3 separate regions of the Homo sapiens genome follow, and all the other regions are linked to region 2. The links come from fine-mapping of genetic effects on gene expression. A gene starts in region 2. Each other region holds a variant in brackets. All regions are shown on one strand. Distances are from middle to middle. Region 1 overlaps GUCY2C (guanylate cyclase 2C). Region 2 holds the start of PLBD1-AS1 (PLBD1 antisense RNA 1). Region 3 holds the start of PLBD1-AS2 (PLBD1 antisense RNA 2).

Evidence for each region.
Region 1: its variant is fine-mapped to the expression of PLBD1-AS1 in whole blood (TOPMed, PIP above 0.99). The same link has a PIP of 0.9 or more in prefrontal cortex.
Region 3: its variant is fine-mapped to the expression of PLBD1-AS1 in whole blood (INTERVAL, PIP 0.98).

The regions. Positions count from the first base shown.
Region 1 is chr12:14,615,875-14,621,525 of GRCh38, forward strand. GUCY2C (guanylate cyclase 2C) reads right to left here. Exons shown (of 27, transcript NM_004963.4): 23 at 5,168-5,342; 24 at 3,337-3,435; 25 at 759-853. It overlaps PLBD1-AS1 (PLBD1 antisense RNA 1), which reads left to right. Exons shown (of 6, transcript NR_120465.1): 5 at 3,278-3,499; 6 at 3,864-3,881. Among named protein-coding and RNA genes, the nearest start is that of GUCY2C-AS1, 47 kb to the right of the region's middle. The variant C/T (reference allele first, on the strand shown) is at 2,303.
Region 2 is chr12:14,564,561-14,570,211 of GRCh38, forward strand. PLBD1-AS1 (PLBD1 antisense RNA 1) reads left to right here and starts at 3,172. Exons shown (of 6, transcript NR_120465.1): 1 at 3,172-3,246; 2 at 3,459-3,632. PLBD1 (phospholipase B domain containing 1) reads right to left here and starts at 3,323. Exons shown (of 11, transcript NM_024829.6): 1 at 3,022-3,323. The coding sequence starts at 3,136. RefSeq lists silencers at 2,168-2,344, 3,084-3,193 and an enhancer at 2,589-3,270.
Region 3 is chr12:14,528,346-14,533,996 of GRCh38, forward strand. The region is part of intron 6 of PLBD1 (phospholipase B domain containing 1); the gene reads right to left. It overlaps PLBD1-AS2 (PLBD1 antisense RNA 2), which reads left to right and starts at 1,794. Exons shown (of 5, transcript NR_187784.1): 1 at 1,794-1,896; 2 at 2,697-2,865. The variant T/C (reference allele first, on the strand shown) is at 2,975.

The sequences.
Region 1 (5,651 bases), 51 kb after region 2:
AGACAGGTAACTTACAGTTAATAGCTGGCTTTGCCAGTTGTGAAAAGATTCCAATAACTTTGGAAAAGCAGCCTGAGAAGCATTTGGAGACAACTGATGGCTATGGAGGGCAGCTGTTTTAAATGTGAGGAACTGCATGAAGAATCTGGAATAGCGATTCTCAAATATTAGTGTGGTCACAAACACATTATCTTGTTAAAAATATAGATTTCTGATCTACGCCCACAGAGAATCTTGCATAGTAGGCCTGGTAGAGTGTCCACACATCTGCATTTTAACAAGCTTCCAGATGAGGAAGAGGAGGAGAATGGGGCCACACCTTGTCATTCACTCCTTGTGATTCTAGAGCTTCCGAATAGTAAAGCAACTGGCAAGAGAGGTGACCTCAGATCATAGCAGCAGTGTGTAGTAAGAGTAGGGAAGTAAGTGGGGGGACAAGGGTTTTGATTCAAATTAAATAAGTCCTGGACCAGACTGTATGTAGCTCTTGTGTTTGGAGGAGGAACTGGATACAAAACCTGGATATGGCAGAGGAAATGCTGGCAGAGTTCAAAATCTCAAAAGGGCTCTTTGGAGTAAAGGCAAGTTTTGAGTTCACATTTTTTGGTGGTCATTTCTCTTGCAGAGGATGGAGGGTGCTCATCGTGATGAGTACAGAAGAGGATTAGCATGCTCAACTTTCCTGGCCAAGTCTCAAAGGAGGTGGCCCAAGCGTGTCTGAGAGCTTTTCCTATGCATTGTCTCTGTGGACTCCTTACCTTTAAGTATGTTTCTCCTCTCACTTCATAAAGGAACTGGCACTCAGTTCTCTTCAGGATGGCTATGGTGGAGCCACTCACGTGAATTCTCAAAGCTGGAAATGCAAATTGACAAATAAAAATCCCAGCTAGTACACAGCCTATTTGTTTCCCGTTGATTCAGGATATCAACAACACCTGAGACAAGAATCCTAAATCAAGAAGAAACAATTGTGGCTATTTTAATGAAAGAACACTTAAAAATAACATCAGAGAGATAAGAAATGGTATAGTTTGGATATTTGTCCCCACCCAAATCTCATGTTGAATTTTAATCCCCAGTGCTGGAGTCCTGGCCCCCGACCAGGTGTCTGGGTCACAGGGGTGGATCCCTCATGGCTTGGTGCTGTCTTTGCGATACTGAGTTGTCACAAGATCTGGTCATTTAAAAAGGTGTGGCACCTGCCCCTGCCACTCTCTTTCTTACTCCTGCTTTTGCTGTATGAAGTGCCTGCTCCTGCTTTGTCTTCTGCCATGAGTGAAAGCTTCCTGAGGCCTCCCCAGAAGCAGATGCAGGTGCTATTCTTCCCTTACAGCCTGCAGAACCATGAGCCAATTAAACCTCTTTTCTTATAAATAACCCAGTCTCAGGTTTTTCTTTATAGCAATGCAAGAATGCCCTCACACAAGAAATATAATCTCACGTGGGAAGAAAGAAGGCCTGGCATCAGTTTTCAGGGCCCTGCGTGATGTGATGGGGATCCCTAGGTTTTTCTCCATAGATTCTCATTCCAGCTCAGAGTAGTAGCCTGCGGGACCTAGTTTTAGATTTGGCTTGTAGTGCCAAGCTTGGGTGTTGGAGTTTGGTTTTGGGTCCCTGTGGAAAAGTTCCAATAAATAGCTAAAGCCTTGTGGGCAAGGTGAAGATTCGGGAGAGTTGAGGGGTCTTGATTTTCTCAAATTTCCTTCTTCTGGAACATTGTTATCCTTTGACAAAAGAAGTGGTGAGGGCACGCCCATTCACAAGTCCATTGATGTGTATCACCTTTCCCAATATAGGGGCCTAATAGCAATACCACAAACAATTACACAGTAAGAATAATGACAATCCCAAATTGTATACCTACCATGTACCATGATTGCTAAACGCTTAACATGACATCATCCCAAATTATTTCAGAAACCCTCTTGGCACGGTTGGTATTCCATTTTCAATTTGTATCTTTATCTTTCTGAGGGCTAGAAGGATCAGGTAGCTTTCTACTCAACTTATACTGAGAATGATTAACATAATTTCAATTGTAACCCAAGTCTGTCTGACCCCAACCTTATCCTTTTCCTTGCCAGCATGATTTGCCAGGACAAACTAGTATCACATTGTCAGTACACTACCAAAATACCATCCTGCCTCCTGTGGTTTCGTAAGCCCCAGCCATGTCTCCCAGTGCTTATTTTCTCTCTTCTATATATTTCTACTGCTACCACTGTCATCAATATTTATTGAGCATCTACTTCATGCAGCACATTGTGCCTCTACCTTGCCAAGCAAATGCAATATATTCCTT[C/T]GTATATAACAAATGCTTAGATTTTTCTTTACTAAAATCAATTCTTGGTTGGGTATGATGGCTCTTGCCTGTAATTCCAACACTTTGGGGCTTTGGGGGACCAAGGCAGGAGACTTGCTTGAGCCCAGGAATCTGTGACCAGCCTAGACAACATAGAGAGACCACACCTCTACAGAAAAAATTAAAAAATTAGCTGTGCATGGTGGCATGCCTGTAGTCCCAGCTACTTAGGAGGCTGAGGTGGGAGGATCACTAGAGCTGAGGAGTTCAAGGATGCAGTGAGCTGTGATTGTGCCACTGTGCCAAAGCCTAGGCGACAGAGTGAGACCCCATCTCAAACAAATAAACAAAAATCAATTTCCAGAAAAAACGAATATGCTTTGGGAGGCCAAGGTGGAAGGACTCCTTGAGGTCAGGAGTTTGAGACCAGCCTGGGCAACATAGTGAGACCCAGTCTCTATTAAAAATTTAAAAATTATCTGGATGTGCTGGTATGTTCCTGTAGTCCCAGGTACTTGGGAGGATGAGGTGGGAGGATCACTTGAGCCCAGGAGTTCAAGTTTACAGGGAGCTATGATCGTGTCACTGCACTCCAGCCTGGGTGACAGAACGAGAGCCTGTCTCTAAAAAACAACAACAAAAAAGCAAAACCAAATAAGAGGGAAACAGGAATGTGAACCAGAGTGTGTAGTTCTTACCTTGCCTACTGATTTTTTTTTAACTTTCATGAATCTATGGTAAATGCCAGGACTATTCTAAGTAGAATATCCCCAGATTCATTGTATATGAGCCAAAAATATAGAAATAGTCTAAAACTGAGCAAAAGTGGAAGAATAAAATAATTATCAGTAAACAACAATGAAAGCAAATGTAGCAAAAGGTGGATTGACACGGGTTTGTGTTCAGCTAATGTGAAGAATTATTCTACATCTCACTGGCACTTTGTATCTCCTTATTGTGCATTTTATCTCACAGTTGCCCTCTGCTGGAAAACAGCATCTTTGTCCTCTGAGAAAAACAGTCTCCCTTCTTACGGAGGCCAGTGGATTCCATCCTAGAGGCTGTGTTGACCGTATCTCCAAATAGACAATAACGAGGCATCTTGATTCCCACAACTCCAGCAGCACAGGGACCTGAAATGAAGGACAGAAAGCAGGAAGTGGAGGCAATAGAAATTGCAGAGTAGAGTGAAGACAGGTAAGCCTCTCTGTATGGTCACAATCCTGAATACTTCCTGTCATGGAGAAGTAGCTGAGGATGTGAAATGTGAGCTGGGACTTTTGGTTTAAATGGATGAATCCAATGAAGCATCATTATTCAATGCATGCGATCATAAAGTATTTTGCTCTCGCAAAGAAAACGACATTTGTAGCAAATAGGAAGGCATTCAGAGATCCAGATCACAAAGGTGATTTTAAATAGAAGGCTCTCAGGAAGGATGAAGATGAGCCCCACTGCTTGCTTACTGTGCCAAACCACACAACCCTGAATTTCACACTGCTGGAGGGCACTGTAGATTTGAAGCTTCAATGGCTCAAGTTTGTTTTATTTTTATTTTAAGGTGGCATTTCTGGGATTGGTGCCATGACAATGGAAGACAGAAGACAAGACAAAGGCATAACTTTCCGTAAGCATTTCATGGACCAGGCGAATGCAGCTGGATGGGGAAGCCTGTGGCACAAGGAGGTTCCAACAAGCAGAACAAAAGCCCAGGCTAGACTATGCGCTGTGGCATATTAGGTAGGAAATAAGGGTTATTCAGTCATGTATTTGCATAGAATGACTGAGTGCAAGGTGTTAACAGTTTCAGAAGTTAAAGATTAACTCAAAAACTGCAAAGCTGAGTTTTAAGCAATGCCTGGCTAAAGATTCATCTAGATGACTTCTGAGTTCCTCTCTTACAGGTGTTTTTTCTATAACACCTGTAACTCATCTCAAACCTTGATGTTCAAGGCTGTTGAATTAAACTAAGTTTGGCCTGAGGCTGCCTCTTAGGGGTCCCTACAAAACAAACTGCAACCTAGCTTGGTACATAAACAAACTAAAAGCCTAACTAGGGTATACTTACGTTATAGATAGCTGAGTCTCAGCCAATCGCAGTAGCTGAGCTTCAGCCAGTCACAGGCTGTCAACTGATGGGACTTTGACCAAATCAGGGGAACACAGAGGTTTGACCAATCAAGTTGTTTCTGTCCCTCACTTCTGTTTTCTGTCTATAAACATTGCCCGCCCACCTTGCCCATTGAAGCTCTCTGAACCTCTTCTGGTTTTAAGGGCCATCTGATTTGAAAATTATTCTTTGCTCAATCAAACTGTGTTAAATTTAATATGCATAAGCTTTTCTTTTAACAAGGCTATGTAACTTTCATGGTCTTTGAAAGTGACTCATGTACTTTCTGTATAACTGCAGTGGCAGGGAAGGGAGGGGGTATAAATATTATAGAAATTTCACCATCTGTTCTTTATTTCCCCTTGTAGATAATCTAATCCACTTAAGATACTATAATATTTTAGTGGGAAAATATATTGAAGTTGGGGGTGGGGAGAAAGGGAATGGGGAGGAAATAAATGAAATCATAGGTATGGTGATTTAAATAGGAGTCCAAAGCTTCTTGTTTTCGTACATGTTTGGTGTTTATCATGTCAGCAGTCAGTGGTGCCCTCAAAGGTCTTGTTCTTAGAGTTCTCTAGGAACTGGGTCTAAATATCTCAGGATGCATAGTGGGACCTCACATTTGGCAAAAAGAATTAAGAGTAAAAATTATGTGAGGTCGATCACACTTGAAGACCTTTTATCCTTTCTGATTTAGTTGGTGCACAGCAGTACATATGGTTCCCAATTTGCTAAGATGCTCAACTCCATACCAGAGTGAACTCCAATGCGAATCCATATTGGGAGGCCAGGAAGATGCTCCAGCTCAAAGGTCCCCATGAAGCTGAGGATTTCCAAGGCCATCTTGGCAATGTCTATTGCATGCCGATTGCCATTTCTCTTAGGCAAACCACTAGCCACCATGTACGCATCACCGATGGTTTCCACCTGTGGAAACAGTTTCTCATGAGTGCCTCTGCCCCTTTGAAAAGTATAGAAAGTAAACAGAAGCAGTTAATCACATGTCAAACACAAAAAGTGATTTGGGAACACAGTATGAGCATAGCCCTTTACACTTTTTCTGGGGCCAGTTGGATCAGTTCTATGCTGATTTCTTCAGGGTTTTTATAGTCCAGTTAATGGGTGATAAAATAGCTATAAAGGAATTTAGCCATTTAAAAGTACTTCATAATTATATAAATTGTCCAGATGTGGTGACAGTTCTAGAAATGTTCAAATAAATAATCTGAATGGTTT
Region 2 (5,651 bases):
AGAAAGTGCCTAGAGCAGACCTCACAAATATCCAGTCTGCCTGACAGTTATATTTCTAACTAAAAATTATGCTAAGTCTGATGAATAGACTTGGGTGTATATCAGGGTGAATCAGCTTTCTTAGCTGTGATCAGATATGGAGCAGTAGAAAGACTGAATTTCTGGAGTCTAGCCCTGCAAGGCCGAGGGCCAGATTCTGAACCAGTTTTACCAATATACATACCATATTATGAGTCTCTCAGCAGCCAACCCTAAAAGAATGTCTGCAGAGTTAAAGGATCAACTGAAACTGACTCCAATCATAGGTCTGCCAAATCACCTTATGGAGACTGAATGACTTCCAAGATGTTAAACTTTTTCAGAACCAGATAAAGGTATGATTTATTTCTCTAGTGACCACCTGACTTCTCTATACATACCACTTAGAAAAAATTATATAAGGACCTTCTAAAATCAATTATGGGGCTTTTGGTCTGGAAAGATAAACGCAACACCATATGTCTGAAATCATAGCTTGAAAGATTTGGCTAGAATGACTGTGCAATTATTTGTCAACTTCTGGAATAATAAAACTATAGAGTAACCTTTACAAATTGAAGAATATGCAAGAATTAACTAAAAGTGTCCGGGCATGGTAGCTCACACCTGTAATCCCTGCACTTTGGGAGGCTGAGGCGGGCAGATCACCTGAGGCCAGGAGTTCGAGACTAGTCTGTCCAACCTGTTGAAATCCCATCTCTACAAAAAATATAAAAATTAGCTGGGCGTGGTGGTGTGTGCCTGTAATCCCAGCTACTCGGGAGGCTGAGTCAGGAGAATTGCTTGAACCAAAGAGGTGGAGGTTGCAGTGAGCCGAGATCACGCCACTGTACCCAGCCTGGGGGGAAAATAAAAATAATAGGAAATAATAGTAAAAAAAAAAAAAAGTAAAATTAAAAATTGAAGAAGTTGTTTTTGGATAGATAGATGCATATGAGTGGATATAAAATCCATTCCAAGGGGATGGACATGCAATCCCTTTAGTGTTTACTGAATTCCTACTAAGTTCAGGGTACTGAGCTGGGTACTTCAGAGAACACATGACAAGTGAGAGGTAGCAAGTCCCAGTTCTTTACTCTTTGGTTGTTCGCAGGCTAGTAGAAGGGTAAAGACAAAGACCCAAAAAGCCTCAAGGGAAAACAGATTAATGTGGGTAGGACAAAGGAAACAGAGATCTCATCTGCTGAAATAGTGTGGCATCACCAGATGTCCTTAACACCTAGGTAAGTAAGAATCCTTTCCAGATTGCTGGGCATGGTGCTGTCAGGATCACTTCATCTCAGAAATGTCCTTACTTTCTGCCTTGGCTCCAGAACCTCCAAGCATGGAGTCAGCTTCCTGTTGGAGGAACTGTTTAAGATGCAGTTTCTTACAAGGTGGTACCTTCTTGAATAAATAGTGCTCCATCTTCAGAAAAACAACGCCTGTCTCACTCCTCAGGCTGCCCCCTCCACCTACAAAAACACTTAATCTCACTCGTCCAAAAAAACAGAAAAGGAATAAAGATTTTAGCCAGCATTCCAAACACAAAAGCTACCTCCACTTTTGGGACCCTCCCCAGCCTCCCCCAGGTACCTCTGAATGAGCTGTCTCCCTAGACTAGAAGTAGACACCAAGGCCACCTCCATAGTTTAGGCAAAGAACACAGAAAATCACGAGTCAGGAGCCTGTGGGTACATCTGATCCCACAGACTGGAAAGATTTAAGATTGAAGAGTGATAACTAAGCAAGTCTCAAAAACGAAGGCTCTTGATGATGGAAGGTAGTGTAATAAGAATCAGTACACATATTTAGGAAGGGGCATCCTCCCCCAAGCCCCACCCTACTCTTGTACAAGGTCAGCACAGAAAAGGGGATTATGAAATAAGACAAAATTAATTCTCTTATTATTACTTTAGAATTCTTTCAAGTCCCTTAGTTACAGTTCATAATCTTCACCTCCTTAGGAACGGAAATCATAAATCCAAGGCTTTTTAATTTAATTTAATTTAATTTTGGCAAAGGATGTAGATTTGCATGAATACCTGTAGAGATAAAACCTGTTTTTCCAAGAGGGAAGTAGTTAAGAAAATGCCCTCTGGCATCCCCTAACTCTGTCTTATTTGCTGTGTTATCTTTATGCGAATTACTTCTGATCAATCTCACTTTTCTCATCTGCAGAATGGGGAATATAATCCTATTTAGGATTATATATTAAAAAAAAAAAAAAAAAACTGCCGGGCGCGGTGGCTCATGCCTGTAATCCCAGCACTTTGGGAGGCCGAGGCAGGCGGATCGCCCGAGTCAGGCGTTCGAGACCAGCCTGTCCAACATGGTGAAACCTCGTCTCTACTAATAATGCACAAATTAGCTGGGCATGGTGGCTGACGCCTGTAATCCCAGCTACTTGGGAAGCTGAGGGAGGAGAATCGCTTGAACCCGGGAGGCGGAAGTTGCAGTGAGCCGAGATCACACCATTGCACTCCAGCGTCGCCCACAGAGAGCGACTCTGTCTCAACAACAACAACAAAACCAAAAGGCCCTTAAGCCCACTGCCAGGCACGTATCAAACTGACAATCGTGCAATCGTGATTTTAAGCCAAAGTCAATGTAAATTTTTAAAACACAAAACAAATGGCAAGCCGGAACCATACCTCCCTACAATCTGGATAAATATATTTAGATGCCCATTGGCTGGAGTTTTTAAGACCAGCCCAGGCTCTGTGGGCCAAGAATCGGCGCAGGAGCGAACCGATTTGTTGGCCAAGAATTCGGGCCAAAACTTGTAAAGTTGGCAGACGCACTCGCCATGCCCTTCTCAAGTGCCCTCGCTGCGCAGCCGCAGGGCTGGAGCGAGACCGCCGGCCGGAGGCGCGTTTCTCTGAGTTCACCCAGGAACCAGACGCCCGCTGGACGTCAACTCGGCCGGACGCGGGGCACGGGCGCTAACAGGCTCCTAGGAGCCTCCCCGGGCGCCCCCCGCCCAGGGCGCGCTCTGCTCACCTGCAGGTTTCGGCGGCTCCGCGGTGACTAACAACAGCGGCAGCAGCAGCAGCAGCAGCAGAAGCGGTGGCGGCTGTGGCAGCCCCGGGCGCCCGCCCGGACCGCCGCGGGTCATCGCTCCACGGCCGCGACCTTCCTCTGCGGGATCAGGCGGCCGCGGTGGCCCGCGGTGGCAGAAGTTGCAAGAGAGGCTCCTGGCCTACTCAGGGGCGCCGCCTCTCCGAGGTGGGGCGTCCTCAACTTTCCTCTTTCTTGAGCCCGGCCTGCTCCGGGCTCTGAGGGGCGAGGACGCTTCACGTGGTGGCCTGGGGCCCACCCCGCCTAGGAAAGGCGGATCCTTTACGTCTGACCCTCTAGCAACCCCTGGGCCGGTCTGGGAAAGTTCCCCAGCTGCACTTCTGGGAAATGCAGAGGCTGCCTGCCGCTTTCTTTCGCAGTTTTGCGGCCCAAGGCTTGGGCGAATCAGTTCACATCAACACCCCTACTAGCCTCTCCCTCCGGGGTCGACCATTTATCTCCAGCAGCGGACCAGGCGCCCGGGCCAGGGTGACATGCGCGCCCTGCCTACACGCAGCTCGGATCCTCTGCTGTTTCTGGAGAGGCCTCCACAGGTGCGTTTTCCTCAGCGATTAGCGTACCCCTCATTCCCAGGCTGTTTAACCTAAATCCATGCGCTGTAGCTCAGATTTTTTATCCTTTTTGCTTCCTCTTCGTTGGCTGGAGCCACCACAGGAGAGTGATTCAGACGGGGCTGACACTAGACACACTCCTACGTTTCTGTGGAGTCCCCATTTCTGTGTGGGGTCAGTTAAAAGTGACATTGTGAAGTAGTCAAAAGTTATGCCTTGGGTGATATTGTGAAGTTGGCACCGGGTGCCCTAGGTGACATTGTGAAGTAGGCAAAAGGCATTTCATTCATTCACTCAGCATTGGCTGGGCCCATCTTATACTCCAGATACCAGTGATATAAAGACAGCTAAGAGCATGCCTCACCACAGACAAAAAGAACTAAGCCAGCCGGGCGCCGTGGCTCACGCCTGTAATCCCAGCACTTTGGGAGGCCGAGGCGGGCAGATCACGAGGTCAGGATATCGAGGCCATCCTGGCTAACACGGTGAAACCCCGTCTCTACTAAAAATACAAAAAATTAGTCGGACACGGTGGCGGGCGCCTGTAGTCCAGCTACTTGGGAGGCTGACGCAGGAGAATGGCGTAAACCCGGGAGGCGGAGCTTGCAGTGAGCCGAGATCGCGCCACTCTACTCCAGCCTGGGCGACAGAGCGAGATTCGTCTCAAAAAAAAATAATAATAATAACAATAATAATTTTTTTAAAAAAGAACTAAGCCATATAGATAAACAAGTACACAGAACTTGCCATTCTACTGTGTTAGAGCTATGTTTAAGGTGCAGTGGGAGAGGGGGAAGGAGGGAACAAGCCACCTCTCAGATGGGAACCTCAGCACCCCACTCTTCCTCTTGGCCTTTCTTCTAAGCTTAACCTAGGTGTCAAGGAGAGATGAGAAGAGAGAATAAGCAGTACCTTTCATAACGGGGAAAATGTAATTGTTAGAAAAGATAAAGAACCTAAAAGTTCATCAAATCTCTGTGCAAATTGTGAAACACAAGTCACAATTTTGTGGTCCAGGCACCATGGCTCATGCCTGTAATCCCAACACTTTGGGAGGCCAAGGTGGGAGGATCACCGGAGCCCAAAAGTTCAAGACAAGCCTGTGCCACACAGGGAGACTCCAACTCATTTTTATTTAATTAAAATTAAAGTCACAATTATGTTTAATGGCATTTAATGAATGAAGACATCGAGGACATTGTAAAAGTTGCACATTTTCCTTCAAGTTAGAAAATTAAAATGAAGAAAAATTAAAACGAAGACATCGAGGACATTGTAAAAGTTGCACATTTTCCTTCGTTAGAAAATTTAAATGAAGAAAAATTAAAATGAAGACATCGAGGACATTGTAAAAGTTGCACATTTTCCTTCAAGTTAGAAAATTAAAATGAACCAAAAATGAAAATTTTGGTTGTGTTATGATGGGAAGAGAACCACATTAGGATGTTCAAGGAAGTGGTGCCACCCCAAATATTTGAGTCATATTGCCCTATACCACCCTCCTTCACCTTACTAACCCTTCTGATCCAAGGAGCCAAGTGTTCTGATGAAGTAAGATGCATATAAATGCCTAATGTGAACCTTGAGGCATTCATTCATCTATTATTTGTCATCAAATATTCGTTGACTCCCATGTTCCAAGCACAGAGCAGTAGACAAAACAAAGTCCCTGCCCTTGCAGAGCTTGCATTCCAGTAGTGGGGAGCAAATTATACATATAAACAAATTAATTGGATCAGGACTTCTCCACATCAGCACTATTGAAATTTTGGAGCAGACAACTCTTTGTTGTGGGGGGGTTGTCCTGGACACCCCTTGGCCTTTACCTACTGGATGCTAGTGGCACCCCCATTGAAAATGTCTCCAGACATTGTCAAATGCTCCCGTAGGGGGGCAAAATTGCCCCCTAGTTGAGAATCACTGAATTAGATGATAAATCTTGCTTTCTTTAAATTATGCCAGTTTTACATATCTGGGAGGAAAATGAGCTGCAAAACTCAC
Region 3 (5,651 bases), 36 kb before region 2:
CAATAAAGTTAAAAAAATTTGAAATCATACAGAATATGCTCTCTGATCTCAGAATAAATTAGAAAATGCAATTAAATTGGAAAACAGTGACAAAGATCTGAAAAATCTGTAAATTTTTGGAAATTAAACAATACACTTCCAAATAAGCTATGGATTAAATAAATCGTGATAAATTAGAAAATATTCTAAATGGAATAAAAATGAACACAAAATATACCAAAATTTGTCAGATGCACCAAAAGTAGTGCTTATTGGAAAATTTATCATTTTATTTGCTTATGATAGAAAGATCAAAATCAGTTATCTAGTCTTCTACATTAAGAAGCTAGAAAAAATTACAAATTAAATGCAAAGTAAGTAGAAGAAAGAAAATAAATATAAAAATGGAAATTTTATCTTAATAAAGAAGAAAAATGGACAATATCATGAATGATAATGGGGACTTTACAGATCCTACAGACATTAAGAGGTTAAGAAAAACATTATAAATAGCTTCATATCAATAAAAACAATAACTTAGAAAGAAGGGATAAATTCCTTGAAAGATACATTTTTAAAACTAACTCAAGAAGAGTTAGAAAACTGAAATAGTTCTGTAGCAGTGAAAGAAATTAAATTTACAATTAATAACTTTTCAACAAATAAAAACCTTCATATCTAGCTTCACGCGTGAATTCTATTAAACACTTAAAGAAGAAAATGGGCTGGGCACAGTGGCTCACACCTGTAATCTCAGCATTTTGGGAAACCAAGGCAGGAGGATCACTTGAGCCTAGGTGTTTGAGGCTGCAGTGAGCTATGTTCACACCACTGTACTCCAGCCTGGGGGACAGAGTGAGACCCTGTCTTTAAAAATAAATAAATAAATAAATAAATAGAATAAAATAACACTAATCATATACATGCTCTTAAAACACTTAGGAGAAAGAAATAATTCCACATTTAGGATATGAGGATAAGCTTATCCTAAAACAAAAACCATCATAAGAAAAGCAGACTACAAACAAATATGTCTCATGAATGTAAATGAAAAAAATCATTAACACGTTAGTAAACTGAACTAAAAATAAATACAGAGAATAACACATCATGACTGAGGATTAACCCAGGAATTTCAAGTGGTTTAACATCTGAAAATCAATCAATGTAACTTATCATATTAATAAAGGAAAAAATTCATATGATCTTTTCAACAATTGCTGAGAAAGAATTCAGAAAAATGCAACACTCATTTATTGATAAAAATATTAAAGAAAGTAGGAAGAGCAGGGACCTTCCTTAACATTATAAAGGGCATCTACAAAAAATCTGCAGTTAACATCATACTTAATGGTGAAAGACAATACTTTTCACCCTAGGTCAGGAATTGGGCAAGGATTTGCATGCTCACCACTTATGGTCTCCATTATTCTGGAGGTCTTCTCCAGCACAATCATACAAAAAAACAATCAAAGACATACAAGGGATGGAAGAAGTCAAACTGTCTTTATTTAGAGATGTCATGATTGTATATATAGAAAATCCCAAGGAATCTACAAAAAAGCTATTAGAAAGATCTCAGGATAATAATGTACAAAAAAATCGTAATACATTGTGGTAGTTTTCAAATTTCCACAAATTCTTTGGCACCCTTCTCTTTAAAAGGTGGATTCTAATCGCCTTTCCTTGAATGTGGGCTGGTCATAACACCTTGCTTCTAATTAATAGAACCTGGTGGAAGTGAGCGTGTGTGACGTCTGAGGTGAGGTCACAATAGGCATTACTATTTCTGCCTTGTTCTTTTGGATGGCTTCGTCTGGAGCCAGGGGTCTTGCCATGAAGGACATTCAAGCAGTTCTGAGGAGAGGCCCAAGTGAAGAGGAACCAGTTGCCAGCACCACCCTGTCAGCTATGTTAGTAAGTCGTTTTGGAAGTGCATGTTCCAGTCTCAGTTAAGCTATCAGAGATTTTAGCCCCTCAGTCATTGAGTCTTCCAGCTGAGGCCCCAGTCACAGTAGAGACAAATTATCCCCACTGTGCCCTATCTAAATTCCTGATCCACAGAAACCATGAGTAACTAAATCATTATTGTTTTTAGCCACTAATGTTTGGAGCAATTTGTTATGTGGCAATGGGTAACCAATAAATACATATGAGCAACAAACAACTGAAAAAAGAATAAAAAACATTTTGATTACAGTAGCATCAAACATTACTTAGGATTTAACTTACTTAAAGGTATGTAAGACCTAAATACTGAAAACTACATGATATGACTCAAATTAAAGACTGAAATAAACAAATAGATTATATTAGTAGATTGGAAGACTCAATGTTGTTGACAAGTAAATTTTCTCTGGATTGGTTAAAACTATCAGATCTTTGTGCTGAGGTCTTCACACAATTGTATTGGCTGCCATTTCAGTGCCGTCATTTTCTAGTGATTTATCTCTTTGTCTTACCTCCTTGATTATTAATTTGCATTGCCAAAATAAGTAAATGTGTGGGGAGGGCTAGTGCAAGGCTTCTCCATTCCTTACTCAGCCTTAGCTGTTACTAGGCAAACAGACCATGTATTCAAAACCCTTCTTGTTAGGGACAGAAACTCCTAGAACAAGGCCATTCAAAGCCACTTTCCTTTGGGTATCCAGTGCCTCAGGCAAGTGTTTTTTGTTGTTGTTGTTGTTTTGTTGTTGTTTGTTTGTCTTTTTTAACAGGGCCCCTGCCTATATAAACAATTTGATTAAAAACATATATTTAAAAATTCATCAGTACATGTGAGATATGATGATTTATCATTGAAGATTTAGGATGATGGGCAGAGAAAGGCAATCTGTTTTGTCTATTGTCCAATCAGTGCACGTGAAGATTTGTTACAGTATCCAGGTACCATCTCTTTGTATTCTTTATTATTAAATGCATTGTTCTTGGCTAATTTCCTATTTTTTGTTATGAGAAAAAGGTAGCAATACTGTTATTACAAAACCATGACTTT[T/C]TGGAACCTGTTTGTTTTGAAACAACACAGATCTCCTTGCCTCTGCAGTTCCCTAACACCATTTTCTTAATGACTTTGCGACATCTACCACTCTACCTGTGAATCCTGGCTTCTAATGACTCAAAAATCCTTATTATGCTTTGTTAATGATGACCACAAATGCAAGCCTTACCCAGAGTGTTAAAAAAATTGTGAATGATAATTTGTTTTATGGTTACTAAAGCTACACTGGGAATTTTACAGTGTAAACATAGATCGACATGTTTTCTGTTGGACTCTTCAGGCTAATTGCTGCCTCCCTAGAATGTAATCTCTTTGTTGTTGTTCTTGAGACGAGGCCTCACTCTGTCCCCCAAGCTGAAGTGCAGTGGTGCTATCTCGGCTCCCTGCAACCTCTGCTTCCAGGGCTCAAGCTGTTCTTCAGCCTCAGCCTCCCAAATAGCTGGGATTACAGGCATGAGCTACCAACACTCGGCTGATTTTTTTGTATTTTTGCAGAGACGGGCTCTTGCCATGTTGCCCAGGTCTCAAACTCCTGAGCTCAAGATAATCCGCCCACCCTGGCCTCCTAAATTGCTGGGATTACAGGCATGAGCCTGCTTAGCCTGTTTAAATGTTAAGTGCATGTATTTGAAAGTAGGTACATAAAAAGATAAAAGAACAGGCTAAAAGCCCCAGGAAAATTTAAGTAAAGTTTTCATAATTTAAGGCTTCACAATTTAAGTCAAGTCTTCATGAGTCAAATCTCTTTTCATGCTGAACCCTCCCCCACCTTCACTCCTCACCCACGGGCACCAGTGGGTAGGATAGGTGAGAAGCCTATAAGTCGAGCTGGAAGAGCTGTCCCAATCACACCAGAAAAATCCATCTGGCTTAAGACTGACCCAAGACAGTAGGAAGTCACATCACCAACTGCAGCAAAAGATTTGCTGCAAAGGCCCGTTTGTGTTGTGGAGCAAGGTTCTCAAAAGGCCTCAGAGGGGCCAGGCCTAGCCCGCCCCAAGGACTGACCGACACATGGTACAGAGCTGCAGGGGTGAGGAGGCCACGACAGGGGCCAGATGTGGAGCTCATAGGTCGAAGTTCGCTTTACCGTCCTCCCCTGCTGCATGCTGAAACCCGAGGGTAAGAGGTGGTTTTCAGTAGCATAGAGCCCTGAACATATGCTCTGACATGAGAGTCACCCCAGGTCATCGTGTGACCACCGTTCTGACAGCTCAGTTATGCACCATCTTGCAAAAAATATATACTGTGAGGGCCAACTAGAGGAATCTGCTTACCAGGACCAGGCCATAGGCTTGAGTCCCAGAGCTCCTTAGGGCATCTTGTTGAACCCATGCGTGGGCAGGAATGGAGGAGAAGAGCCCCCAGATAGGGAGTCCACATGCGTTGCTTTCTGGACTCAGAGAAGCTGACCTGGATGGCTCTGCCACCTTGGTCAGTCTTGGGCACTAGAAGGGGATTTTGAAATTTTCTGGAAAGGAGCTTTCTAAACTAGATGCACAGAGACACAGGTCAAGATACTGCCAGCCTGGCCAGTCTCAGGATGCTGGAGGGGGATTTAGGTAATTTTCATGAAGGTAATTCCAAGCTGGGAGGGTGGGGTTCCTGTGCCCAGACCTAAGGGTGGTACTGAGGTTATCAGCACCTGGTATACTTTGGTATACTTTTGACCTTCCCTGGGTATTGCATGTTAGCCTCTTTAGGTGAAATAATTTCCTCAATCTCCACTTTGTATTTTAGAAAAGACTAAAAAAGACCAAGCCTGTTAAACAACTCCATCAAAGAAAAACAAGGAAGCCATCCAGCTTTGTTCTGGACTCAGCAGCTAAGATGGCATGAGCTTCATCGTAAAGCATAGTTCTATGTCATGTCTACTGGATGAATCCAATGTGGCTGGTCCCTTAATAAAATAAGTTGTAACATAAATGAGACTGCACATGTTTTCCTGTTTGGTGCTGAGAACAAAGCTGCCCAGTTAGAGAAAATATGAATCCCACTGTTCCATTGGCTCCTGTAAAAATGTTTTGGGGTATATATAAAACTGTCTGTTGCTCTCTTGGAGATTCAATTGCTCCAAAAAGCTCTACATATTATCTATGAAATCTACTTGTGTATCTCATCTGGAAGGATACATATGCAAATGTTAACAGGATTATACGTTTCATAAGAAAATCTTCCATGACCTTCTCCATCACTACCTCTGGGATCCAGGACTGTTAACACTACTGGAGAGCATTGTATTCCACAGAGATTTCAAAGCAGTGCACATAACATCTGAATATTGCATTTTATCACAAAGATGAGGAAGAGGAAGAATACTGGACTGCTCTGTCTCTTGCTGTCCTTAAATGTCAGTGTAATAGAATGTGAAAGAATCAAAGCACAGTCTAACTCAGAGAGAGGAGTCCCCAGTCCCCCTCAATGCTAAAACAACTAAGCAAACTAAGACAAAGATGAAATCAAATTGGTTTCAAAGAAAGGATCAGGTCACAAGGACAGAGAAATACTGGGTTATGCCCTTGGTCAGAATTCCTGATAGGGGCCGGACATGATTGCTCACACCTTAATCCCAGCACTTTGGGAGGCTGAGGCTGGAGGACCACTTGAACCCAGGAGCTTAAGACCAGCCTGGGGAATGTAGCAAGATCCCATCTCCATAAAACATTTTTTAAAA